6 separate regions of the Homo sapiens genome follow, and regions 1, 2, 3, 4 and 5 are each reported to be linked to region 6. The links are microRNA targets in miRTarBase. Many come from high-throughput screens and were not tested one by one. Region 6 holds a microRNA gene; each other region holds the end of a gene's coding sequence.

Region 1 (4,089 bases), not on the chromosome of region 6:
TCTGCAATGAGGTTTTTGTCATTTGGTGAGTAAACCAGCTCCAATCTCCCATCCTGAATGCCTGCTTTCTAGGGCCATTCTGGGTACCAATCGTCTTAGTTTGGATTCCCCAAAAAACAGAGCCTGAGAGAAAAGCTTGAATGAAAGTCATTTATTTGAGAAGCGATCCCAGGATGCAAGAGAGATGCACAGGAGTGAAACAAAAGAGGAAAGCCAATATAAGGATGGTTATTGCCAAACCCGCCACAGAAGTCTCCTCCTCTTTTGAGGAGACTTACGAAATGCATTTCAGAACTGTCTGCCCAGGTGATGAAAAGAGTAATCAGTTATCCACTAGCAACTTTCCACCTAGGTCAAGGATGGCCCCATGGGCACCTAACTCCCCTGCACCTTTGGGCTGTGCAATTGGGAGTACCAAACAAGTTCTGCAGACATTCCACGTCAGGGAGGCTGAAGTGAAAGGTATACAGCTAGAATCCAAAGAGAGGTACTATCATATTCTCTGAGAACCTGGTCAAAGACTTCATGGAATTAGTTACCACAGCAGTGACTGGAGTAGAAGGCAGGGCAGAGAAGATCTGAAGTGGGGCCCAACATTTCTGATGCGTAGATCAAAGGCTTAAGGCTGGAATAAACTCAGCATGTTTGAGGAATGCAAGAGAAGGGAGAGTGGGTGAAGACATACTAAGCCTTGGTGAGTATGGTACTGAGTTGAAGCAGGAAGAGATCAGATCCCACAGGAGTCTGCAAGGCTGAATAAGGAATATACATAGAATGAATAGTGCTTACTACTGAATAAAGTAGTCCAGGAAAGACATTCTTTTTAATATTAAAAGATAAAGCCCCAATATATAACCCATCTGAGGATTTCTAATCATAATCTTCAGCATCAAATTACTGCCTTTATAACATAGTTTGGGGAGATGAAAACAAAAATCACAGATCAACTATTTTCTCCCACTACCAGCAAAGAAAAAATGAGGAACCTATGACTTAAGAGCAGTTGCTAGAAATTTTAAAGAAAGGGTTCACTTTTATGTCAAGATCAGACAACTTTAAATTATTTAAAGATCCTGTTACCCTTGCTCTGTTGACTGCCACTTCAGTGTTTCTTTCAGGACACTCCAAACAGCAGACAAGAGATAAAGTGTTTCAACTGTGTCACAAGAGGACAGAAAGTGGCTGTTTGCATCTGTTTGGGTCTAGTGTCAACCTCAAAGTTACTCATTAGTATCCATAAAAATAAAAACTTAGGACAAAAGGTTAAGTGTACAAATAGAGGAAACACACATTCCATAAAGGAGAGGGGGAAAGATTGAATTCTTAAAGCCATACTAAATAATATCCTACAATGTGCAAGCAGAAGTGACCTTAGAGAACGCTAGCCTCTAAATGACCCAGAAAGTAAATTATGACTAAGTATGAAAGCCAGACATGACATGATGATAAAATATGAGCTGATCAGTATTAGAAAATATATAATTTGGTTTATTTCCTAATTCATAGAATCCTAAGACTTGATGGTGCTCTTAGGGATCATCTAATCCAAAATTACTGCCAATGCAGGGATTCCTTCTATAAAACCCCTGGGGATCACTAGCAACATGGGACTTTTAGGTTGGAGACTCTAGCTGGTAGTGGGCAGTTCTACGTTCACCACTAAATTTGCTCTTATTTGATTGCCAGCCCTTAGTCTTAGCTTTTTTAAGGAAAACAGTAACTCATTTCATAAATATTTATAGCAAAGTCTATATATGCTTGCCACGCAATTTGAGAGTTAATTTCTTTGTTTCAAGTGTAGGAATAATTATCAGTGTAAATTCCTCCATTCTAGATGAACAGCTCCTTAAAGACAAGACCATATATCTTGTACATTTTCAAATTTCTGCCTTAAACAGAGCACCTTGCTTATATTAGGATTTCAAATGTTTGTGAAATGATAAATGAATGGAATGAGTGAACGAACTGAAATGAAATTAATGCCCATATTTAAAAATAGAATATTAGCTGATTTCTTGCCGAAGTTGTTAGTTCAAGAGTGAAAAAGAATACTCAAGTATCTGAAACATTTCTCTAAAACTTTATTTCAAAGTTATTCACCTCACCGTTAATAAGGTGTATGATTAATGCTCTGTGCCAGTATTTGCAGGCCTGCCCATTGCCGGCAATGGACTTTGAGAAAACCCATTTCCTGGCACCCAAAAGTTAAATTACTCTTTTCAAAACATACCGATCTCCCCAACACTTGCAAAAGTATTACATGCACCATTTTGCCACCATTCTTTAAATCAGAACTTACATTATTAATCTACATCAGTGAATGTTAAATGAAGTCATTTTAACAAATTATGACTGTACAAATCAAAATACTACTAGTTAATATTAGACAAGAGTATCTTACAAACACTACTATTACATATTACCTTGCAATCTGAAACATTATATTTCATATTTGTGTATATTTATTTTAGATAACTGAAACTTCACAGAATTTAACAGCAAATAAAGTTTAAAAAATTTAGTTCTGTACATTAGTTCCAACTATCCCTATTTTACAATCTATAAGGCTCATGTCATAGTTCAGCACCAAAAAGATCTACACAAAACTGTTTAACCAATCTTCTTATCTATCCTGTGTGATAGTTTTGTTTGTTGTTGTTTTTTAAGGTAAAAGTCCTACTTCAGACCTTGAAGTGGAATACTTCTAGTCAGACTAGGTAAAAACTTGGGTCATACCTTATTTTCATTGAACAGATACCAAAAAAAAAAAAAAAAGGAAAAGGAAAAGAGCTGTGTTACACCATGAATTTAGGTTGTCAGCCTCTATGTTGAATTTATAACACTGAAGCATCAGAAATAGCCTAATAATGCCCTGCCCCTATTCTTCCCTTCCATTTTAAATTTTTAAAAAAGTAACCAGAAAAATGTTTCATTTATTCTTTAAAATAAGGTGCAAAGAAGGACTGCAACAACAAACTCCCTCATCCACACCTCCAATAACATCTCACTGTTGTTCAGCATAATCTACCATGAACTGATTCAGGAGCACACCTAGAGCTATATTCACAGCTCCTGAATGTACCATGTTTTCTATACCAGAAGCCTCTTCAATGGCAGTGTTTCTCTGTTCAGAGGTCATTACAATAACTTTTGTCACTGCTGGCCTGGACTTAACATTCCAGATTCCAGAGCCAGTGTTTTATTGTCCCAGCTCTTTTCTTCCTCTTTAGGATTTATCAATTTTAGAAAAAGGGCATGTTTGTTTTGCTATTTTCAAAGGGTTTGTGCGTATCACATTTTACCACATTTTACCCCAATTTTACCACACTGGGGAATGTTGTCACATTCCCCAAGCTAGAAATGTTTTCCAAAAACCACAGGTACTTTCTGTAATCTTGTTGTTCAAAGTACAAAATTCTTACATGTTAAAAAATTTTTTAATTGGAGATTAGTACCTCTGCTTTCTTCTGACAGAAGTACACAATTCATTATACCATGTTTAAAAACCAAACATCATGCATACAAATGGCCAAAGAGGTATGAAGTTTTACAGAGCCCTTAACATCATTCGAGTACATTTGGCATTGGCCAGACCACAACAGGAAGCATGTCAGCAAATAGAGCAAAGAGACTTTCCCAAGTACACGATAGTCATCCAGGCTCCATGTCAGTCACATAAAAATTTACATAACATGTAATCCTTTAAAATTATCCCCAGATATCCCATTCCTCCAACTGTTCCCATACCCCCACCCCATGCCCACCCCACCCTGAAGTCTTGCACCTCACAGAGTATCTTAATGTTCCCCATTACTAATGACAGCTGCTTCAGGTTCTGCTGCTGTGGCAGGGAGTCTTGGTACTTTCTTGGCAGGGCTTGGAATATGCTAAAATGAAAGGAAAAAAGTTGATGGCTCTTATGATTCTTTCCCCCACAAGAATCATGGCACCAATTAAAGTTTCTGTAAAGAAACTTAATAAAGGACAACTCTGGAGAAGTTTATGCTAAATATATATTTTATATAACTTTTCATGAAGGGAACTCAATATCCATTTTTCACCTTATGGTGAATTTAGTATACAATTATC
Region 2 (4,104 bases), not on the chromosome of region 6:
TGTTTTTAAGATTTTATAAAAGAAATCTATCTCTAGTACCAAATACCATATTGAGATTATAATATTCTTGCAGTCTAAATTTAAGCTATTGTTTAAACTTTTGCATTGTAAAAAGAAAAGTTCATGTGTGTGTGTGAGATGTCAAAGTGTATCATAGATAATCCTAAAACAATATAACAATCATTTAACCCAAAGTCAATGCCCTTTAAATGGAATGTATCTTTTTCATTATTTGGTTATGAAATATACAGAAGGTACTGGGGAAGCAACAATGGAAGAGGCAGAAGCATTCTTGGCCCTCAAGGAGCTTACACTCTACAGGGCAATACTACCACTGAATGAGCAATTACAAGTCCAATACAAAAGGAGCTTATATGTAGGAAGCTAACCTCTCAGGCAGGGATGAGATTTAAAACTTTTAATGTCATCCTATGCGTTGTTAAGGAAGCAGGGAAAGCTTGGGAAAGAACTGCATTAAGACATTTGAGCAAGGGTAAAACAGAAGGGGAAAACCTCAGCTCTTGACTTGAAATAGAAAACCTATTCCCTCCCTCTCCCTCTCCCTCCCCCTCCCTCTCCCTCTCCCTCTCCCTCTCCCTCCACGGTCTCCCTCTGATGCCGAGCCAAGGCTGGACGGTACTGCTGCCATCTCGGCTCACTGCAACCTCCCTGCCTGATTCTCCTGCCTCAGCCTGCCGAGTGCCTGCGATTGCAGGCGCGCACCGCCACGCCTGACTGGTTTTCGGTTTTTTTTGGTGGAGACGGGGTTTCGCTGTGTTGGCCGGGCTGGTCTCCAGCTCCTAGCCGCGAGTGATCCGCCAGCCTCGGCCTCCCGAGGTGCCGGGATTGCAGATGGAGTCTCGTTCACTCAGTGCTCAATGGTGCCCAGGCTGGAGTGCAGTGGCGTGATCTCGGCTCGCTGCAACCACCTCCCAGCCGCCTGCCTTGGCCTCCCGGAGAGCCGAGATTGCAGCCTCTGCCTGGCCGCCACCCCGTCTGGGAAGTGAGGAGCGTCTCTGCTTGGCCACCCATCGTCTGGGATGTGAGGAGCCCCTCTGCCTGGCTGCCCAGTCTGGAAAGTGAGGAGCGTCTCTGCCCGGCCGCCATCCCATCTGGGAAGCGAGGAGCGCCTCTTCCCCGCCGCCATCCCATCTAGGAAGTGAGGAGCGTCTCTGCCCGGCCGCCCATCGTCTGAGATGTGGGGAGCACCTCTGCCCCGCCGCCCTGTCTGGGATGTGAGGAGCGCCTCTGCTGGGCCGCAGCCCTGTCTGGGAGGTGGGGAGCGTCTCTGCCCGGCCGCTCCGTCTGAGAAGTGAGGAAACCCTCTGCCTGGCAACCGCCCCGTCTGAGAAGTGAGGAGCCCCTCCGTCCGGCAACCACCCCGTCTGGGAAGTGAGGAGCGTCTCCGCCCAGCAGCCACCCCGTCCGGGAGGGAGGTGGGGGGGGTCAGCCCCCCGCCCGGCCAGCCGCCCCGTCCGGGAGGTGAGGGGCTCCTCTGCCCGGCCGCCCCTACTGGGAAGTGAGGAGCCCCTCTGCCTGGCCAGCCGCCCCGTCCGGGAGGGAGGTGGGGGGATCAGCCCCCCGCCTGGCCAGCCGCCCCATCCGGGAGGTGAGGGGCGCCTCTGCCCGGCCGCCCCTACTGGGAAGTGAGGAGCCCCTCTGCCCGGCCAGCCGCCCCGCCCGGGAGGGAGGTGGGGGGGTCATCCTCCCACCTGGCCAGCTGCCCCATCCGGGAGGGAGGTGGGGGGGTCAGCCCCCCGCCTGGCCAGTCGCCCCGTCCGGGAGGTGAGGGGCGCCTCTGCCCGGCCGCCCCTACTGGAAAGTGAGGAGCCCCTCTGCCCGGCCAGCCGCCCCGTCCGGGAGGGAGGCGGGGGGGGGGGGGGGGGTCGGCCAGCCGCCCGGTCCGGGAGGGAGGTGGGGGGGGTCAGCCCCCCTTCCGGCCGGCCGCCCCGTCCGGGAGGTGAGGGGCGCCTCTGCCCGGCCGCCCCTACTGGGAAGTGAGGACCCCTCTGCCCGGCCAGCCGCCCCGTCCGGGAGGGAGGTGGGGGGGACAGCCCCCCGCCCAGCCAGCCGCCCTATCCAGGAGGTGAGGGGCGCGTCTGCCCGGCCGTCCCTACTGGGAAGTGAGGAGCCCCTCTGCCTGGCCAGCCGCCCCGTCCGGGAGGGTGGTGGGGGGGTCAGCCCCCCGCCCGGCCAGCCGCCCCATCCGGGAGGTGAGGGGCGCTTCTGCCCGGCCGCCCCTACTGGGAAGTGAGGAGCCCCTCTGCCCGGCCACGACCCCGTCTGGGAGGTGTGCCCAGCGGCTCATTGGGGATGGGCCACGATGACAATGGCGGTTTTGTGGAATAGAAAGGCGGGAAGGGTGGGGAAAAAATTGAGAAATCGGATGGTTGCCGGGTCTGTGTGGATAGAAGTAGACATGGGAGACTTTTCATTTTGTTCTGTACTAAGAAAAATTCTTCTGCCTTGGGATCCTGTTGATCTGTGACCTTATCCCCAACCCTGTGCTCTCTGAAACATGTGCTGTGTCCACTCAGGGTTAAATGGATTAAGGGCGGTGCAAGATGTGCTTTGTTAAACAGATGCTTGAAGGCAGCATGCTCGTTAAGAGTCATCACCACTCCCTAATCTTAAGTACCCAGGGACACAAACACTGCGGAAGGCCAAGGCCGCAGGGTCCTCTGCCTAGGAAAACCAGAGACCTTTGTTCACTTGTTTATCTGCTGACCTTCCCTCCACTATTGTCCTATGACCCTGCCAAATCCCCCTCTGCGAGAAACACCCAAGAATGATCAATAAAAAAAAAATAAATTAATTAAAAAAAAAAAAAAAAAAAGAAAACCTATTCAAGATTTCAGGTGCTTTTTTTTTTTTTTTTTTTTTTTTTTTTTGAGATGGAGTCTCGCTCTTGTCCCCCAGGCTGGAGTACAATGGTGCAATCTCAGCTCACTGCAACCTCTGCCTCCCAGGTTCAAGCGATTCTCCTGCCTCAGCCTCCTGAGTAGCTGGGATTACAGGCGCCTGACACCACGCCCGGCTAATTTTTGTATTTTTAGTAGAGATGGGGTTTCACCATGTTGGCCAGGCTGGTCTTGAACTCCTGACCTCAGGTGATCTGCCCGCCTCGGCCTCCCAAAGTGGTGGGATTACAGGCATGAGCCACCGCATCCGGCCAGATTTCAGGTGCTTTTAAAAAGTAACTGAAATTTTATTTTTACTTAATTCCTTTATTTATATATATATATATACCTGAAATTAAGGCAAAAAGCATGATATGAGACCCAAAAAAGCTCATATCCTACTCAACTAAAAGTGTTTAGGACCTAAACAGGGCAAAAGATTTAAATAGCACTAACAGCTCAAGGAATGTATAGGTTAAACCTTTTGTTTTACATCCAGAAAATTAGAAAACTCAGCTAAACATTGTATATATCACAAGGTTTTAAAAATAATTTGTAAGATTTAATCTTACCAAGAAAGCTTACTCATTTAAAGACTTCTTTATACCGGCCCTTCATATCATCAGTGGAAACTGTTTATTAAAAGGGAGGAGTATGGGATACACAAATAGCATAAATCGAAATCTCACACTTAATCCTTTAATGTTAATTGCATTTCAGACTGAGTAAAGTCTGACTAAAAATCACAGCAATGGGACAAAGCACTGCTTTGTTTTAAAACTGCACATGTGCTTTCTCCCCTGAGAACCTTTGGCTTAGACTTTTTGTACAGTAAGACATTTCATTAAATATGGTTAGATTTGCAGTCTAAGACCTTAAGTGACACACTCAATGACAACATTCTTATAAATTATAGCCAATTATAAGTCCTCCTTCTGGTTTCTCTTCTGTGCTTCGTAAATATGTACATCTTTTTCAGGATCGTAGTGAACCTTTCTCACAGTAAATTGCCTCTCCAGCATTGCTAAGAAGTTGTTATCCCGTTCATAGCGAATTCGGCATGCTAAAAGAATCACAGAGTGATTGCTACAGAGATGTTCCAGTGTCTGAAGAAGATCTGTGAATGTTTCTTCTAAATATATGATATCAGCACCAAGTATCAGGTCAAATTCTCCAGGAGAAAAACTCCCCAAATTTTGTCCCC
Region 3 (4,104 bases), not on the chromosome of region 6:
ACAGGGTATTCCATCATCTTGGTGTACTAAATCAATTAACTATTACTCCATTGTTGAACCTGTAGGTTGTATCTCTCCACTGTATTCCTCTTCTTTCTTCAACTAGGATTCTAAATTGACTGATAGGTTAGGCCTGGGCATCTGAGATATTAAGAATAATATGGCTCAATATATAGATCAGATTGCCATATTATGTAAACAACTAAAAAACAAATTGTACTAAGTATGGTTTCTGTGCTCCTAACAGAGTCTCTCTGAATTACAGGCTTTAATTTTCCTTGTGGTTGGAATATTCTTCATGATTGGAAGCATGGCACTCATTATAATTGACTGGATTTATGATCCTCCAAATTCCAAGCATCACTAACACAAGGAAAAATACTTTCTTTTTCTATTGGAAATGGTTACAAGTTATACTCCAAAAGATATTTGAATTATCTTGATTGGAATGTTATTCATAGGAAATAACAGGAAGATTCCAAAGACGTTTACCAGTAATATCACCAGGCACCTGCAGAAGAGGAAAATCACTGTTTTTGTCAAGGATGGTTGTGTATGTGTTTAAAATAAAACCTGTGGTGCACATTTCTACCCAGGTTTTGCTAGAGCAGTGTGAGATGATGAAGGTGTATTTTTGCTGCTTTACGAGCAGAATAAGGGTAACTGCATGTAACAATCATCAGATAGTACTCTTTCCCCTGCCGTCTCCTCATCCTGCACCCCCTAAAAAAGTACCAAACATTTGCATTCTCAGAACATCAAACAAAAATGCCCTGGTGGCAAAGCTATCACCATTTAATGTCTTCTCTCAGTCTTGCACCAAAGTCTCTGGTCTGTTTACTAACAGAGGCAAAAGGCATGTCTTAGGAACTGTTTCTGTTTCTGTAAGGTACATGAATGGTCAAACACCAGTCTAGAGCATCTTATTGTCAACAGCAAAATAATATTTTGCCCACCCTGTTTGTGACATTGAGTTGTGACTTCTATATTCAATAGATTTTTGTAAATGTTAAAACATCTATATTTAAATGTTAAAACACTAAATATAGAGAGGGGCTTTATTTCAATCATAGAGCAACAACAAAAATAATGCTTATAGCTAAACTGCCTGTTCTAGAAAGCATCTGCTTTTTCATGTTATTCCTAAATCCTCTTGTCATACTTTTGTCATTGAACAATGCTCTCCCTCTCGTCTTCCATCCTCATTCAGAATTTTTAGAAGACCACAATCGTGGAGATACACTACCCAGTATTGTTTGATACATTTTTATTTGATAAACATTCAGTGCAGGAAACTGTGATTTGCTATATGTTTATGTATATAATCTTATTCTGTAGTCATCAGAATGTTAATGTAAGGTACATTTGATTTTTATTTTTTACATGTGTAGTTTTCTTTCTTCACAGTCAAAGCATTTATATTATTGGGGGTGGGGGCAGGGAATTAAGTTGGTGGGCTCGAAAATCCATTCATATGTATCTGTCTACAAATGTCTGGGGATAATTTAAATTTGAAACCTAAGTTATATATAGTTTGGCAATGCTCTTCTTCAATATTTACAATAATAGGATGATCTACAAGAAAATAAGTTTCTTTTTGCAAATTTTTATCATACTAAAGTTGTTCTTTTAATTTAGCATATCTAAAATAGGATTTAGTTCAGTTTAGCTCACACAGGTGTTTGCTGACATTCATTGGCCATTTAATACAGTGTTGAGTGGTTCTCTGTAAAAGTATAAGTGCTAACACTACGAAGAAATGCACACGATCATTCTTGCTCACTTCTATAACAAACTTACATAAAATGGATTTAAAAATTCCTACTCACAGCCTAAAACTTCTGGAGTTCACTACCTTTTTTTCAAATCATAGTAAGATCACTTGTGTATTTTATATTTTAGTAAAGCCAATTATGAAGTACAAGTATCATACACGTACTTTTGAGCTACTATTATTTGAAAAAAATCTGCCAAATAGCATCTTTAGGATATATTTACATTTTCACTCATCTAAAAAGTATACAAAAATAAAAAGTGGAAAAAGGTATCTTCTGAATGTTCAAGAGCATCCTATAGTGCCAAATAATAAAGCACCATTTTTTTCTTCATAACCAGGATTAAAATTCATATATACTGCAGGGCAGACATACATATGATAGCTTGTGCTGATTAATTTAACCCCATTTGTAAACAGATGAAAATTTTATTTTCTTATTTCATTTATAAGATGGCTCAATGTATTGGGAGGCTTCTTTTTTATTACAGAAAGTGTATATTGGTATATAATAAATGAACTTTTCAAATGACTATGATGTGATTTTTGATCTATTGTTAAAGAATGTTGTGTTATTTGTCCATGAAACAAAATTTAAAATCCAAATACTGTCTTTCTTATATTGGTTTATGTTCCATTTTCATTGTTACCTTTGACACATAACTAACATCTATAGCCATCATCCTGAAAATAATTGCCATCTTATTTTGGCAAAATAGATATTTAATCCTAAATTATTATGATGATTATAATTTTGGCATCACATATATACCACCTAGAATGAATGTGGAAGAAATGAGTCTTTTATGGTTAGTTTGAAAGAATCCATTGAAGATAGAAAATGAGAGAATAGAAGAAACCTGAGAATAGTAAAATAAAGAGCAGAGAAAATATGGGGGCAGGGAAAACATGTGAGTGCTAAGGATTGATTATGAATGAACGATTAGGGGGATTGACGGATCACAGGGTAAGTATATGCTTAACTTTATAAGAAACTTCCACATAGTTTTCCACAGTGTTTCTACCATTTTCATTTCCACCCGTACTACCTACAACTTCCACTGACTCCACAGCCCTGCCAACATTTGGTGTTGTCTTTTGCATTTTAGCCTTTCTAGTGGGTCTGAAATGGTAACTCATTGTGATTTTCATTTCTGCTTCTGTGACAACTAATGTTGAAAACTTTTCAAGTGTTTAATGGTCACTCATATATCTTCTTTTGTGAAGTGTGTATTCAAATCTTTTGCCCATTTTTAAAATTTAGGTTATGTGTTTTTATTGGGTATTTGTAGAAGCTCTTTAAATATGGATCCATGTCCAGATTGCCAATATATTTTCCCAGTCTATGGTATGGTTGCTTATTTTCCTAAAGGTGTCTTAATTACATCTTTCTGGGGCCAGGTCACCATAGCTCAAAGTTTTGCAATTTATGTCTTAATGAGATAAAATTAATCAGAGTGGTATAGTCAAAATTAAATGTTTTGATGTCCTGGGCCCATATAGGTAGGACTGGATCATCTAACCAAGATGCAAAAAAAAAAAACAAAAAAACAAAAATAGTACTTGGAAAAACTTATTTTAAATTAAACATCTTTATAAAGGCAAACTAGATCAGCATACATTAAAACTAGCCACAAGGCAAAAACTATACCAAGAAAAAAATGACAGAAATTTTAAAAAGAAGCCTCAGAAGCCTCTTGACATGGTATGGATCTGTGTCCCCACCAAATCTCATGTAGAATTGTAATCTCTAATGTTGGAAGTGGGGCCTGGTGGGAGGTGATTGGATCATGGGGGTGGTTTTGGTTTAACACCATCCCTTTTGGTACTGTCATAGTGAAAGTGAATGAGTGATCTCAAAATCTAGTTGTTTAAAAGTGTGTGGCATTTCCCACTTCTCTTTTCCTTCTGCTCTGGCCTTGTGAAGTGCCAGCTCCCTCTTCACCTTCCACTATGATTGTGAGTTTCCTGAGGCCTCCCCAGAAGCCAAGCAGATGCCAGCATCATAATTCCTGCACAGCCTGCAGAACCATTAACCAATTAAACCTCTTTTCTTTATAAATTATCCAGTCTCTGGTATTTCTTTATAGCAATATGAGAATAAACTAATACAACTCCTATCCTCCAAACTTAAATCCTAAACCTGTAATTTGTTGCACACCTGCCCTTAAAGATTGACTAAAGGAAGTTCTTCAAACACAAAGTAAATGATAAAAGGAGAAATGTTGGAGTATCAGGAAAGAAGAAGAAATGAAGGAAAGATAAGAAATATGGGACATATATAAGACTTTTCTGTTTTTAATGAGTTTTATAAATACATTTTTGATTGA
Region 4 (4,104 bases), not on the chromosome of region 6:
GCACACTGTAGTTACACAATAAATACTACTATAACTAGTATCCTTTAGTGTTCCTTAGAGCTCTGGCCAAGTTAGGAGCTCAGAAACCATAGATTCAGCCACGTTTTAGGACCAAATGATAGTTAAGGAAGATACTTGATTCCAGAAGTCTGCCTTAGGACTGGGTTATGGGAAGTGGGGGTGGCTGAGGGTTGCTGGCCTTGGTAAATGACCTCACTATCCTCTTCCAGGGAGCCCAGAGGAGCGTGGTCTGATACAGTGGAAAGCTGGGGCTCATGCCAACAGTGACATGTCTTCCAGCCTCAAGAGCTACGATTTCCCCATTGGGATGGGCATAGTAAAAAGAATTACCTTTCTGAAATACATTCCTATCTGCCCAGTCTTCAAAGGATTTTCTTCAAGTTCAAAAGATCAGATTGCAATTCCAGAAGACACTCCAGAAAATACAGAAACTGCATCTGTGTGCACCAAGGTCTGAAAAATGACTTCCAGGAAAGGTAGGATGTGTCTATGGTTTTTGTGGGAGGGTTGAATAATCAAAACATTCTTATGCTTTAACCAAAGAAAAACCAAACTACTCAGTTCTCTTTCTTGTAAACTGTTTGAATGTCCTCAAAGAGAAGGTGAGCTGGGTAAAAAGTCAACATACGGATTTTGGGTGGAATTCCTTTACCATTTCATAGTAACAGCAGAACTTCCCAACTAGTGTGGGCCACTAAGAGGCTACAAGTATGCTGAAATGCAGATCCTCTAGCCTTCCAGACACCTGGGCAGAATCTGGGCCAATTGGAGTCCTTGAGCTAAGAACTCTAGCCACTGGCAGCCTCATTCTTGTACTCCAGTATGCTAAACAAGTATCACTTTGATATGCGACATGGAAAATGTTGAGAAATGCAGCACAAGAACAGGAAAAATCCTCTCATATACACTGCCTTGTCTCAATAACGTCATAAAATTAAAACCCTTTAAAACAGGATGCCTTTATCCTAAAACGATGCCTGTACAAGCCCTGATGAGGTGACACTTTGTCCTTAGGTCTTCAGAACGCATGGGCAGCTGATGCTCGGAAACCTTCCATCACTATCTGTAATGCAGATGCCTGGCTCTCTACTAAACACTGAAGTGGGTTCAATGTGCACGTTCCCTCAGACAGACAAGAAAAGTTCCCAAAAAGAGAGGTTAGCCTAGATGACTCCTTAATAGTAAAAATAACAACACTTAAAACAGGACTTTCTATGTCTTAAGTACTTATATATATTAACTACTCACATAATCCAGAGACAGTTATTACTGCTATTTTAGAGATGTGGAAAGGAAGGTACAGAAAGGTTAAGTGATATGCCCATGATCACAGGATTCACATCCAGGAAGTCTGGCTAGAGTTCCCTTTTCCTTTTTTTTTGAGACAGAGTCTTGCTCTGTCGCCCAGGCTGGAGTGCAGTGGCGCCATCTCGGCTCACTGCAACCTCCACCTCCCGGGTTCAAGCAATTCTCCTGTCTCAGCCTTCTGAGTAGCTGGGATTACAGGCGTCTACCACCATGCCCAGCTTATTTTTGTAGAGATGGAGTTTCACCATGTTGGCCAGGCTGGTCTCAAACTCCTAACCTCAAATGATCCACCTACCTTGACCTCCCAAAGTACTGGGATTACAGGCGTGAGCCACCGCACCCAGCCTAGAGCCCCCTTTTCTTTTTTTAAATTTTTTTCCCAACAAAAGCCACATTCAAGAATCTTTACTCTTAAGGGCGATCACCTGAGGTCAGGAGTTCGAGTCCAGCCTGGCCAACATGGCAAAACCGCATCTCTACTAAAAAAATACAAAAATTAGCCAGGCGTGGTGGTAGGCGCCTGTAATCCCAGCTACTTGAGGCTGAGACAGGAGAATCACTTGAGCCCAGGAGGCAGAGGTTGCATTGAACTGAGATTGCATGACTGCACTCCAGCCTTGGTGACAGAGTGAGACTCTGTCTTGAAAATAAATAAATAAATAAATAAATAAATAAATAAATAAAGGCTGGGTGCGGTGGCTCACGCCTGTAATCTCAGCACTTTGGGAGGCCGAGGCAGGTGGATAACCTGAAGTCAGGAGTTCAAGACCAGCCCGGCTAACATGGTGAAACTCGGTCTCTACTAAAAATACAAAAATTAGCCAGGTGTGGTGGCACACAACTGTAATCCTAGCTATTTGGGAGGCTGAGGCAGGAGAATCACTTGAACCTGGGAGGTGAAGGTTGCAGTGAGCTGAGATCGTGCCACTGTACTTCAGCCTGGGCAACAGAGCAGGACTCCGTCTCCAAAAACCAACCAACCAACCAACCACACACTGGGGTACAGGTGCCCACACCAAAGAACCTCCCCCATACCCACTGCCAGAAGAATGTGAGTCAGAACTGACTATATGGCTCTCTTAATCTTTTTCAACCTAATAAGCTCAAAAAAAGCCCTTGTGAAGAACAAAAAACAATGGAGGTTCTATTAGAGTAAGGTCACCATCATATTGGTCAGCCATAAAGTTTCTTACATGACTATCTAGGATTCCCCTGACACTGAAGTCTGAGGTGATTAAGAAGCAAGGATGGGCAATGGAGTTATTCTACTGCTATATTCTGGAAAGGTACTTGCATGGCAACATACCTGTTAGAATCTAACAAAGCCTGAAAGCTTAGCACATTTTGCCAGCAAGATTGTCCTGAGGCACTGGGCCCATACTCAAGTGAGTAACACCACTACAGTACATTCCAGCACCAATAAACACAACCATCTGCTCAGTTCTACTATTATTTATTTTTTTAAATATTTTTGAAAAAATATAATTTTTTTACAATATTTTCAACTTAAACACTATTCACACTGAACACGTATGGCAGCTTAACCTACCCAAATATGAAGTTTAAGAAGCCAAAACTGTTCTAGCTTTGTTAAAAGTTGTGCTGCAGACTCTCGTGATGGTTAACAAAGCAAGGAAAAGCACCACTCAAATCATGTTACAGTATCTTTGTTCAGCTGGATTATGGGTTGGTATTGGTCATATGTTAGACTCCATACAGGCATAGCTATGATGCAGTGAATCCCTTAGAAGTTACAATTCTCAAATTACATACTTCCTCAGATGTAACATTAGAACTCAATATTTCTAACAATAACATACCAGAAAAGGCTGGACTGGCACTCATCTGCTGACTAACTTGTAGCCTCAGTAATATGACATACTTGCCTTTAACAAATTATCTCAAATTAACTAACAGACCTTCAGAAAATGGAGATTCTTTTTGATGGGGACATAATCAAATTTAAGTCTGAGAAATATGCTTAACAGTTGGAACTCAAATTAAATGTACTGATTTTAAAGTTTAGACATTAACAAGTGATAGATTAGCCTCAAAAAAAGACAATTTGGTAAGGTTTAGGTCTTTTAATTTGGTGCTTGTTCACAACTTGACTGGTGCTTCTTTCCTTGCTGTCTTCACATCAAGCCATGGGGCCAATTCTATTTTCAGTAAATGTTTGACAGCTTTTTACTTAGTAACAGTCTCAGCACTTTTATTAAGCATGCAAGACTAACAAAAACTTTGGCAATGCATAAGTGTAACACAGTGACAAGAGAGCTTTTACAATTAAGTCTTCTAATACTGCCTTCACAGTGTGGAAATTGTGCTACATCCACCAAAAGAGGGCCCCGTCTACTCAAATATTTCCGTACTTCACCCCAGGAACAAACTCCTTTGCATTTGGATTCAGATTGCTCTTGACCTGGAAAATAAGTACATAAAAAAGCAAGTTCATTAACACAGTTTCAGGTACTAATTCAATCTAGATCCTCATGCAAAAACATCTTCCAAAAAAAAAAAGACAAAAGAACTCAGTCTGTAAGACTATACTAAACCCCAAAAAGGAAGAACCAGATGTAAGCTATATATCATATTAAATTACATCAACTTTTTCTTTTCTTTTTTTGTGACGGAGTCTTGCTCTGTCGCCCAGGCTGGAGTGCAGTGGCACAATCTAGGCTTACTGCAACCTCTGCCACCTGGGTTCAAGCGATTCTCCTGCCTCAGCCTCCTGAGTAGCTGGGACTACAGGCGCGTGCCACCACACCCAACTAA
Region 5 (4,104 bases), not on the chromosome of region 6:
TGGATCTACCTCTCACCATTTGGGAGAATAGGGCAAATGTATTTATTTTGGTGGGAGTAAAGGGGATAGGATGTTTCTTAATCTCTTTAAGCCTCAGCTTCTTCATCTTGCGTTGTTGGAGGATTAAATGAGATTTAAATGAGTGCAAAGTTCAATAAATCATACACATCAATTCTCCAACAGCATACACATTTCAGGCATTTTAGGAGCCCCATCTCATGAAGGAAATCCATACTACTGTGGCAGATGGGGGTGGGGAGGCACTTTCCACTCAACACCTCAGTTCAACTCTGGCCAGTGGCACCTGCCGGGGTGGCTTGGGGCTTGCCACCTGGAGGCCCAGCTCCAGGGACACCCTTCACAGAATATCCTGTGGGAACGGCACCCCCCTCCAAGCACAACAGGGCCCCTTGAGTTTTCAGGTATCAAGACAGGAGACGACACGACATGAGCAGTGGGCTACCATTATTAAGCACTTAGTGTTTGCCCAGCATGGTACAACAATCTGGTAGGTGGGTAGTTTATCTCCAATGACACATGGGGACAAGGGGATAAGTTATCTTGCCCAAAGTCACACAGCCAGTGAGTGTTGGAAGCTGGATTCAAACCCAGACGTCAGATTCCAGAGTCCATTCTCTTCAAGGCTGGACTTGACCCCACCCTGACCCAGGGCCCAGATTTGAGGGCTCTCTCTGAGCCCACCTGACTTTCCTCCAGGGTCAAGGCTGGCTGGGTCCCCTGGAGCCCTCTCCTCCACCCCCACACCCAGAGGACAGGCTGCATCAGGGGTCTTCCCACCCCCACCCCATACCAAGGCTGCTGGAGAGGAGCCTGGCCCAAGGTGGCGCTGCCCCTCTTGGACCTCCAAGAATGCCGCATGGAGCAGCCCCTCAGGGCTGTAGTCCCTCTACACCTACATTGGGCCCCTCCAGCCTGGACCCCCACCCCTCCCACTTCCTGGCTTCCCATCCTTCAGGTCTCGCAGAAGCCTCCTCAACACCCTCCCTGCTTGGTCTCTATCCTTCAGAACCCTCATCACAACCTGTCCTTGCCTCTAGAACGGAAGCCCCATAGCAGCAGGGACCACGTATCTGTTTTAGCTTCAGTTTCTAGCCCAGTGCAGCATTGTGAAAATCCTTAGTAATATTTTTAAAAAGTTTTCGAATTCTACTTTTCTTTGCTGACTTGGCATGTGCTTTCTCCTCTGCCCGTAACCCCCGTTCCTCCTTATTTCCTTGCTAACACCTACTCGTCTTTCAAAGCTCCATGCCACTGTCTCCTTGAGGAAATTGTTCCTGTGCCCCCAGTAGGTAACACACCAGACAGAGGCGAGATTCTCTATCCCGCCCCAGACAAGGAGCCTTTGCTTTGCAGGGCTCCCCTTGGGACCCTCTCTTGCCAGGAGAGCCTCTAGAGAAGCCATCTAGAAGGGCATTCAAGACTCAGCAAGCTCCAGCTCCCAGCCTGGCAGACTGGGTGGGGGAGGGCCCAGCTGGTGGGCGAGGCTGGTTTATCGATGTTGCCGAGAGCCCTGGGGAAATCAAGGTGAAAGGCAGCCACGCTGCTGAGGAGGCCCACCCGTTTATCAACCAGAGGGGCTGGGGCCGGGCGAAAAGAGGCTTGGCTGCCAGAGGCAGCTGTGAGGTGGGAGGTCCACACCACTCCGTGGACCTGGAGGCTGGGCTACACACTGTGCAGCCCGGGCTGCTGCGACAGTGTTTCCAACATGGCGCTAATTCTAGGTAACTAAGTTTGGCTTTAGAAATACCGTCACTGGAGCCACAGGGCTTGCTGACAGAAATCCCCAGCACTTGGCATTGGGCAAGGAGCCCTTAGGGGGTGAAGGGCAGGCTTATTCAGCGGCCTTGGTGCAGTGGGCACACAGGGCACCGGCCCTGGGAGCCTCTGTCTTCCTCTTGCAGGCCAGGGTTGCCTCCTGATTGTGGGTTCCTGTCTGTCTCTCAGGCCCCCAGCCAGGGCCAGCCCAAGGGAGCAGGGGGTGCAGAGCACAACCAGGAGGATGGAGCCAATGGGTGCCTGGAGCAGGGGCACAGAGAGGGAGTCCAACCCAGGAGCCCAGCAAGGCGCTGCAGCTAAAGAGGTCGAGGGAAACATGCAGGGAGACTGCCATCCCTCCCCAGCCCCAGCTGCCCCATAGCAGGAGTGGCCTTGGCATCCCACCTGCTCCACATAGCACCCAGGCCATCTGAGCAGAGTGAAGATGTCAAAGAGAAAACCAAATCGGATTGAGGCTCCTGCTCCCCCTTAATGAGGTTCATTATCAGCAGCTCTGATCCTTGTAAAACCCAGCAGGCCGGATTAGGGGCAGGCTCTCTAATCCTGGCTGACTCCTCCCCACCGAGTGGCCAACCCTGCAGCTCTGACAAACAAGCCCTTGCTTCCTGGAGGAGCTGGAATTAGGCAGGTGCAGACAGGCTTCTCCCTCACCAGCCCAGGGCACTGAGGCAGGAGCTCTCAGGGAGGATTGGGGCAGGGGGTGGCAAGGCTGCACATCCAGAGGCCTGTCTCCGTGCATGAAAAGGCCATGGGGTTTGGGTGCAGACAGTTCTATGGGCAGTCTGTGGCCAGGAGCTGTGTGTGCTGAGGGACATCGAGTCTGGCTGCATTCCAGGTGAGGCTGGTCTCTGTGCATTCTGTCCAGACTGGACACTAGGTCTCCAAGTAGCAAGTTAAAGAACACACCAATGCTTGCCTTAACAAAAATAATTTATTCCACACACCTCCCAAGGCAGGGGGTAGCGTGGGAATCAAGCATGTGTAAGGCACTGCCCCCGCCAGACCCTTCTAACTTCTGCACACTGGAAGGTGAAACCTGGAGAGAGAAGACACTCCCCTCCCTAGCTTCTACCTGGCACCCTCCAAAGATGAGCATTCATCTTGGAGACCAAAATAAAAAAGGACAAAAGACCAGGCTCAGAGGGAGCAGAGCTCAATGGGGGGAAGTGAAAGCAGCCATCTTCTCCTGCAGCTAAGCCAGGGCAAGGCACTAGAGACCCACATCCTTCCCATGCCACCAACTCGTCAGGTCCCACCAAGCAAGCCACTCACCCTACAGCCCAGCAACCATGGCTTGCCTCACCTGGGAGACCAGCACGACTTCCAGAAGCTTCCAAACCCCACCCTGAAGCCAAACCCCACCCAGGAGGTCTGAGGAGCTGGAGGCTGGCCAGGCATAGAGGGCCCGGGGTGGTCCTTCCTCCCAGGGTGCAAAGGCTTCTTCATTGTCCGGAAGGGAGCAGGGTGGGCGGAGCCCCAGCAGCTAGTGAGGAGTTCCATTCCAGCCCACCCAGCTGGGGGACCCTCCTCTGGCTTCACTTGCCCCAGTTGAGGGCCAAGACCAAGCAGGAGAGACTGAGGCTCCAGTGAGAATGAGGCAGGACTTCAAATAAGCTGAAAAACAGGAATGTGGTGCTAAGAGGCCAGGGACTGAGCTGCCCTATGCCCACTGCCCGGGGCTGCCCTCCCTGCACAGCAGGGGAACCTGGACCCTGCTCCTGTCTTTTGTGTCAAAGGAGCTCTCTGTCCTAGCAACCCCAAGAAGCTTCACTGGAGCAACTCGTTTTCCTGAATTTCCCACACTTCTAGGCCAGACAAGGAGCAAGGGGTGGGAGGGGAGGGAATGGGGTCAGGGGGCTTGAGGTGCCTAGAGATGGCAGCTCCCTCTCCCGCCTCCTCCCCAGGTGGTTCAGGCTGCAGGGTGGCCAGCATGGCCCTTCAGGGCCCTTATCTTGGCCTGGAAGTAGGTGTACATGGCCAGCAGGCCCATGAAGGACAGGGAATAGAGCCCCACACAGAGGCTGATGTCCAGGTAAGAGAAGCCCCCTCCCAGCACCTGCAGCCACTGGCCTCGGCCCCGTCCAGCTCGGGCCTCCAGCTGGCCCTCAGGGATGTCGACCAGCTGCTTGGAGCTGCGGCCCACGCGCCTGACCTCCAAAGGGCCCCAGAGGCGGTTCTTCTCAGCCCTGGACTCAGCCAGCAATGCAGCCCCTGTGTCTCGCTTGCTCAAGTGCCACTGCCCAAGCGGCTGCTCCTGCTCATTCCTCTGAAGCTCTGCCATGTGCTCAGGAGGCTCCTGGCCTGGTG
Region 6 (4,000 bases):
TGCCCTTGAGCATCAGGCTAAAGAGTTTAGATTTGTCTTTTTTTGTTGTTCTTTTCTTTTTTTTCTTTCTTTTTTTTTTTTTTGAGATGAGGTCTCACTCTGTTGCCCAGGCTAGAGTGCAGTGGTTTGATCACGGCTCACTGCAGCCCCGACCTCGCAGGCTCAAGCGATCCTCCCACCTCAGCCTTCTGAGTAGCTGGTACTACAGGTGCGCCACCACACCCGGCTGATTTTTTTGAGTTTTAGTAGAGACGAGGTCTTGCTATGTTGCCCATGCTGGTCTCCACCTCCTGGGCTCAAGTGATCCTTCTGCCTCATCCTCCCCAAGTGTTGGGTTGACAAGCGTGAGCCTCTGTGCCCGCCCTAGGCTTGTCTTCTAGATCGACTGTTCTCAAGGTATGCTTGGGGGACCCTGGGCGTCGGCCATATCAAAATCATTTTTATAATAATGCTATGATATTCGGCTTCCTTTTGTTCCAGAGATCACCACGAAGAAGAGAAAACTGGGGAAGAACCCAGACGTTGACACAAGCTTCTTGCCTGATCGAGACCGTGAGGTAAAGGCTGCCTGGCCCTGACCCCGGCCTCGACTCCAGCCCTGGTGGAGACCCTTGCTTAGGGAGCCAGGCTCTGCGTGCACCCTGAGCAGCCCTGGGCCTCACCTGTCTGCCTGCTCCCTCTCCCAGGAGGAGGAGAATCGGCTTCGGGAAGAGCTGCGGCAGGAGTGGGAAGCCAAGCAGGAGAAGATCAAGAGTGAGTGTTTGCGGAGTCAGACGCGAGGGGCCTGGGCCCAAGCCAGCTTCCCTGTCCACAGTCTCCTGGGTGGTGCGCTGAGCCCCAAGGCTGCTCTCAGTGGGGCTGGAGACCAAGAGGCAGCTCTGCCTTGTAGGTGAGGAGATCGAGATCACCTTCAGCTACTGGGATGGCTCTGGGCACCGGCGGACAGTCAAGGTAGGCAGCGTGCAGCCTGCTTCCTGCTCACCATGGGCCCAGCCTCCCTCAGGTTCCGTGGGAAGGAACTGACCTTCCTGACTTGGGAAGCCCCAGGGATCCTGAGGATAACTGGCTCCAGGGCCTGGCCCCCTGTCTGGGGAGTGAGGCCCAGGCCTGGCTGAGGCTCTGCAGCGTCTGGCAGGGCCCTCTGGGCCTCTGCCTTGTTGAGAGCCCTTCTGCAGGCTTCCGCCTTCCCTTCCCAACTCCTGGATTCCCGGATACAGATGAGAAAGGGCAACACCATGCAGCAGTTCCTGCAGAAGGCGCTCGAGATCCTTCGGAAAGACTTCAGTGAGCTGAGGTGTGAGGTGTGCGTGTGTGCACGGTGGTGTGTGTGGCACCTGTGGCTCCAGCCTGGGTGCCAGACACCCAGTGTGATGTGGGCGCTGTCTGGGCAAGCAAGCAGCGTGCTGGGCACTCTCCTCCCAAAAGAGGGGGTCAGGCTCCTCTTCCCTTCCCTCCCACCAGAGAGCTTTGCTGAGAGCGGCCTGCCTTGGTTCCTTAGCCCAAAGGTGGAGGGTGCTGGGCGCCAGTCCTGTGCTCACTAAACCATGGAGCTTCCCTCACAGCCAACTGGCCGCTGCTTCCCAGCCCCAGCATGGGCTCTCCTGGGCTGGCTGTCTCCTCCCTCCCTGGGCAGGGGTGCTGTCCTCTTGCCCACGCCCTCCTGCCTTCCTCCCTCAGGTCCGCAGGGGTGGAGCAGCTCATGTACATCAAGGAGGACTTGATCATCCCTCACGTGAGTCCCTTCAGCCCCAGTACCCGCAGTGGGTGCAGCACCCTGGGCTTTGGCTCAGGCTGGTGGGGGCAGTGTGCGCAGGCGGGGGGTGTGGGGAGGGGCCGAGATGGACCATCAAGACGCCGCTTTCCTGCCCTTGGCTCCCAGCATCACAGCTTCTACGACTTCATCGTCACCAAGGCACGGGGGAAGAGTGGTGAGTGCCGCCGACCCAGCCGCCCCCATAGCACCTTGCCGCCGATGTTGTCACTGGGGCAGCAGCGGGACATTGGGCTGTCACTTCTCCCCTGCAGGACCACTCTTCAACTTTGATGTTCATGACGATGTGCGGTTGCTCAGTGACGCCACTGTGGAGAAGGATGAGGTACAGCGTAGGGGGCCGTGTGAGGGGGAACGGGTGTCCCTGGGCTATGGAGGAGAAGCCAAGGGAAGGGGAGGTCAGCAGGCGGCCCTGTGCCCTCTTCCTCCCTTAGTCCCATGCAGGCAAGGTGGTGCTGAGGAGCTGGTACGAGAAGAACAAGCACATCTTTCCCGCCAGCCGCTGGGAACCCTACGACCCTGAAAAGAAGTGGGACAAGTACACGGTGAGGAGGGGCTGGCAGGGACCCCTCCAAGTTGGGGACGGCAGCCAGCCCCTGCTCACCCCTCGCCTTCCTTGTCTCCTCTGCCCACCTTGTCCTCACACTAGATCCGCTGAGCATCCAGGAGGCTGCGCGGCCCCGGCTCCTCAGCTCCCTCAGTGTGCCCCGTGGTGTCACCGGGACTCCAGGCACCCGCTCCCCTGCGACCATGCCAGGCACGCTGGGAGGAGGACGGCAGCTGCTCGTGTCCTGCCCCTGCCACATCAGTGACTGCTTTATTCTTTTCCAATAAAGAAGTGCACGTGTCAGAGCTGGAGCGCCTGCATTGTGAGAAACCATTTGTGTTCGGACCAAATTCATTTGTCATTTTGACCATTTAAAACTGTACAATTTGGTGGCATTTAGCACATTTGCCATGTTGTGTAGTCATCACCCTGGTCTGCTTCCAGGACATTCTCATCCCTCCAAAGGCCCTGTGGCCATAGGCAGGCTCCTCCCCTCACATCCCCCCACCAGGCTCTCATGTGCTTTCTGTCTCCATGGATTGACCTGTTCTGGACGTGTCATACGTGCCTGGGGAGTCTGTCACCGTGGCAGCCCCACCATCCCTGAGGTGTCTTTGTGGCACTGTGCTTCTTGACCGTGGGCACCTGTCCTTGGGCGGTGGTGGCTCTGGTGGGTGGGAAGGGGGTTCCTCCCCAGGCCTCTCTCCCAGGCCCTTGGGCTCCTGTTGAGTTTCCCGTAGGGGACGTGGCCGTCCTGTGGCCACGAAAACCCATCCTGCCTTCCTTGCTGTGGGCCGTCCCAGCACAGTCGTTCTGCTGTGGTGCCCTGTGCTCGACACTTGCCTGCCCTGCCCTAGCTAGCCCTGCTCAGACAGCCCTTGGGGCAGGATCCAGATCGGGGGTAGGTCCAGGACCCCTACTCTGCCACCTCAGCAGCTGATTCCCCAAGTTCCACTTGGCTAAGCTGAGGCAGGCAGGCCTGGCTCCAGGAGGCTGAGGAAGGCCAGCTGACAGCTCCCTGTTTCCTCCCCTGGCCTGAAGCCAAGAAGAAAGGGCAGGGGATAGCCCCTCACTGGCCAGGATCACCCCAGCCCTGGGTCTGGCCTCCCCTTCCTGGCAAATGTGGAGATCTGATGGTGCCCGATAGTGCAGAGGCCCAGTGTCTCATTCAGCGTGGCCGGGAAGTAGCCACCTGGCGTCACTAGGAATAGAGATGAGAGTAGACTAATGTTTTCTTTCTTTTCTTTTCCTTCCCTCCTTCCTTCCTTCTTCCTTCCTTCCTTCCTTCTTTCTTCCCTCCCCTCCCCTCCCCTCTCCTTCCTTTCCTCTTTCTTTTTTTTTTTTGAGACTGGGTCTTGCTCTGTCTCCCAGGCTGGAGTGCAGTGGTGCAATCTCAGCTCGCTGCAGCCCCCACCTCCTGGGCTCAAGTGATCCTCCCGCCTCAGCCTCCTGAGTAGCTGGGACTACAGGTGTGCACCACAATGCCCAGCTATTTTTATTTTTATGTACATGAAAATTGGAACAGAATTAAAAAAAAATTTTTTTTGTAGAGATGGGATATTGCTCTGTTGCCCAGGCTGGTCTCGAACTGCTGGGCTCAAGTGATCCTGCCACCTCAGCCTCCCAAATTGCTGGGATTGCAGGTGTGAGCCACTGTGTTTGGCTGAGTAGGCTATTTGATG

Evidence for each region. Region 6 holds the annotated microRNA hsa-miR-6858-5p (GUGAGGAGGGGCUGGCAGGGAC, at 2,317-2,338, shown strand). A microRNA usually pairs through its seed, bases 2 to 8, with sites in the 3' UTR of a target mRNA and lowers its output. Matches are read on the target gene's strand: a 7mer-m8 pairs with bases 2 to 8, a 7mer-A1 pairs with bases 2 to 7 and ends in A, and an 8mer does both.
Region 1: miRTarBase lists HMGCS1 as a target of hsa-miR-6858-5p. Seed matches in the 3' UTR shown: 7mer-A1 at 646-652 and 8mer at 265-272.
Region 2: miRTarBase lists METTL21A as a target of hsa-miR-6858-5p. The part of its 3' UTR that is shown has no 7-base or 8-base seed match.
Region 3: miRTarBase lists SLC38A4 as a target of hsa-miR-6858-5p. Seed matches in the 3' UTR shown: 7mer-m8 at 706-712.
Region 4: the mRNA of SLC23A1 is a reported target of hsa-miR-6858-5p. The part of its 3' UTR that is shown has no 7-base or 8-base seed match.
Region 5: the mRNA of QSOX1 is a reported target of hsa-miR-6858-5p. Seed matches in the 3' UTR shown: 7mer-m8 at 3,285-3,291, 7mer-m8 at 3,170-3,176, 7mer-m8 at 1,566-1,572 and 7mer-A1 at 1,281-1,287.

What each region holds. Positions count from the first base shown.
Region 1 is chr5:43,287,334-43,291,422 of GRCh38, forward strand. It overlaps HMGCS1 (3-hydroxy-3-methylglutaryl-CoA synthase 1), which reads right to left. Exons shown (of 11, transcript NM_001098272.3): 11 at 137-3,887. The coding sequence ends at 3,798. Among named protein-coding and RNA genes, the nearest start is that of HMGCS1, 24 kb to the right of the region's middle.
Region 2 is chr2:207,609,226-207,613,329 of GRCh38, forward strand. METTL21A (methyltransferase 21A, HSPA lysine) reads right to left here. Exons shown (of 4, transcript NM_001127395.5): 4 at 3,514-4,104. The coding sequence ends at 3,821. Among named protein-coding and RNA genes, the nearest start is that of METTL21A, 14 kb to the right of the region's middle.
Region 3 is chr12:46,762,964-46,767,067 of GRCh38, reverse strand. It overlaps SLC38A4 (solute carrier family 38 member 4), which reads left to right. Exons shown (of 17, transcript NM_018018.5): 17 at 266-2,307. The coding sequence ends at 367. Among named protein-coding and RNA genes, the nearest start is that of SLC38A4, 61 kb to the left of the region's middle.
Region 4 is chr5:139,368,380-139,372,483 of GRCh38, reverse strand. It overlaps SLC23A1 (solute carrier family 23 member 1), which reads left to right. Exons shown (of 15, transcript NM_005847.5): 14 at 231-497. The coding sequence ends at 478. PAIP2 (poly(A) binding protein interacting protein 2) reads right to left here. Exons shown (of 4, transcript NM_016480.5): 4 at 2,767-3,751. The coding sequence ends at 3,686. Among named protein-coding and RNA genes, the nearest start is that of SLC23A1, 13 kb to the left of the region's middle.
Region 5 is chr1:180,196,640-180,200,743 of GRCh38, reverse strand. It overlaps QSOX1 (quiescin sulfhydryl oxidase 1), which reads right to left. Exons shown (of 12, transcript NM_002826.5): 12 at 1-4,104. The coding sequence ends at 3,707. Among named protein-coding and RNA genes, the nearest start is that of LHX4, 32 kb to the left of the region's middle.
Region 6 is chrX:154,448,004-154,452,003 of GRCh38, forward strand. It overlaps MIR6858 (microRNA 6858), which reads left to right and starts at 2,317; the gene lies at 2,317-2,383. It overlaps FAM50A (family with sequence similarity 50 member A), which reads left to right. Exons shown (of 13, transcript NM_004699.4): 5 at 481-557; 6 at 687-753; 7 at 890-951; 8 at 1,218-1,294; 9 at 1,678-1,732; 10 at 1,880-1,928; 11 at 2,026-2,096; 12 at 2,206-2,316; 13 at 2,421-2,651. The coding sequence ends at 2,429.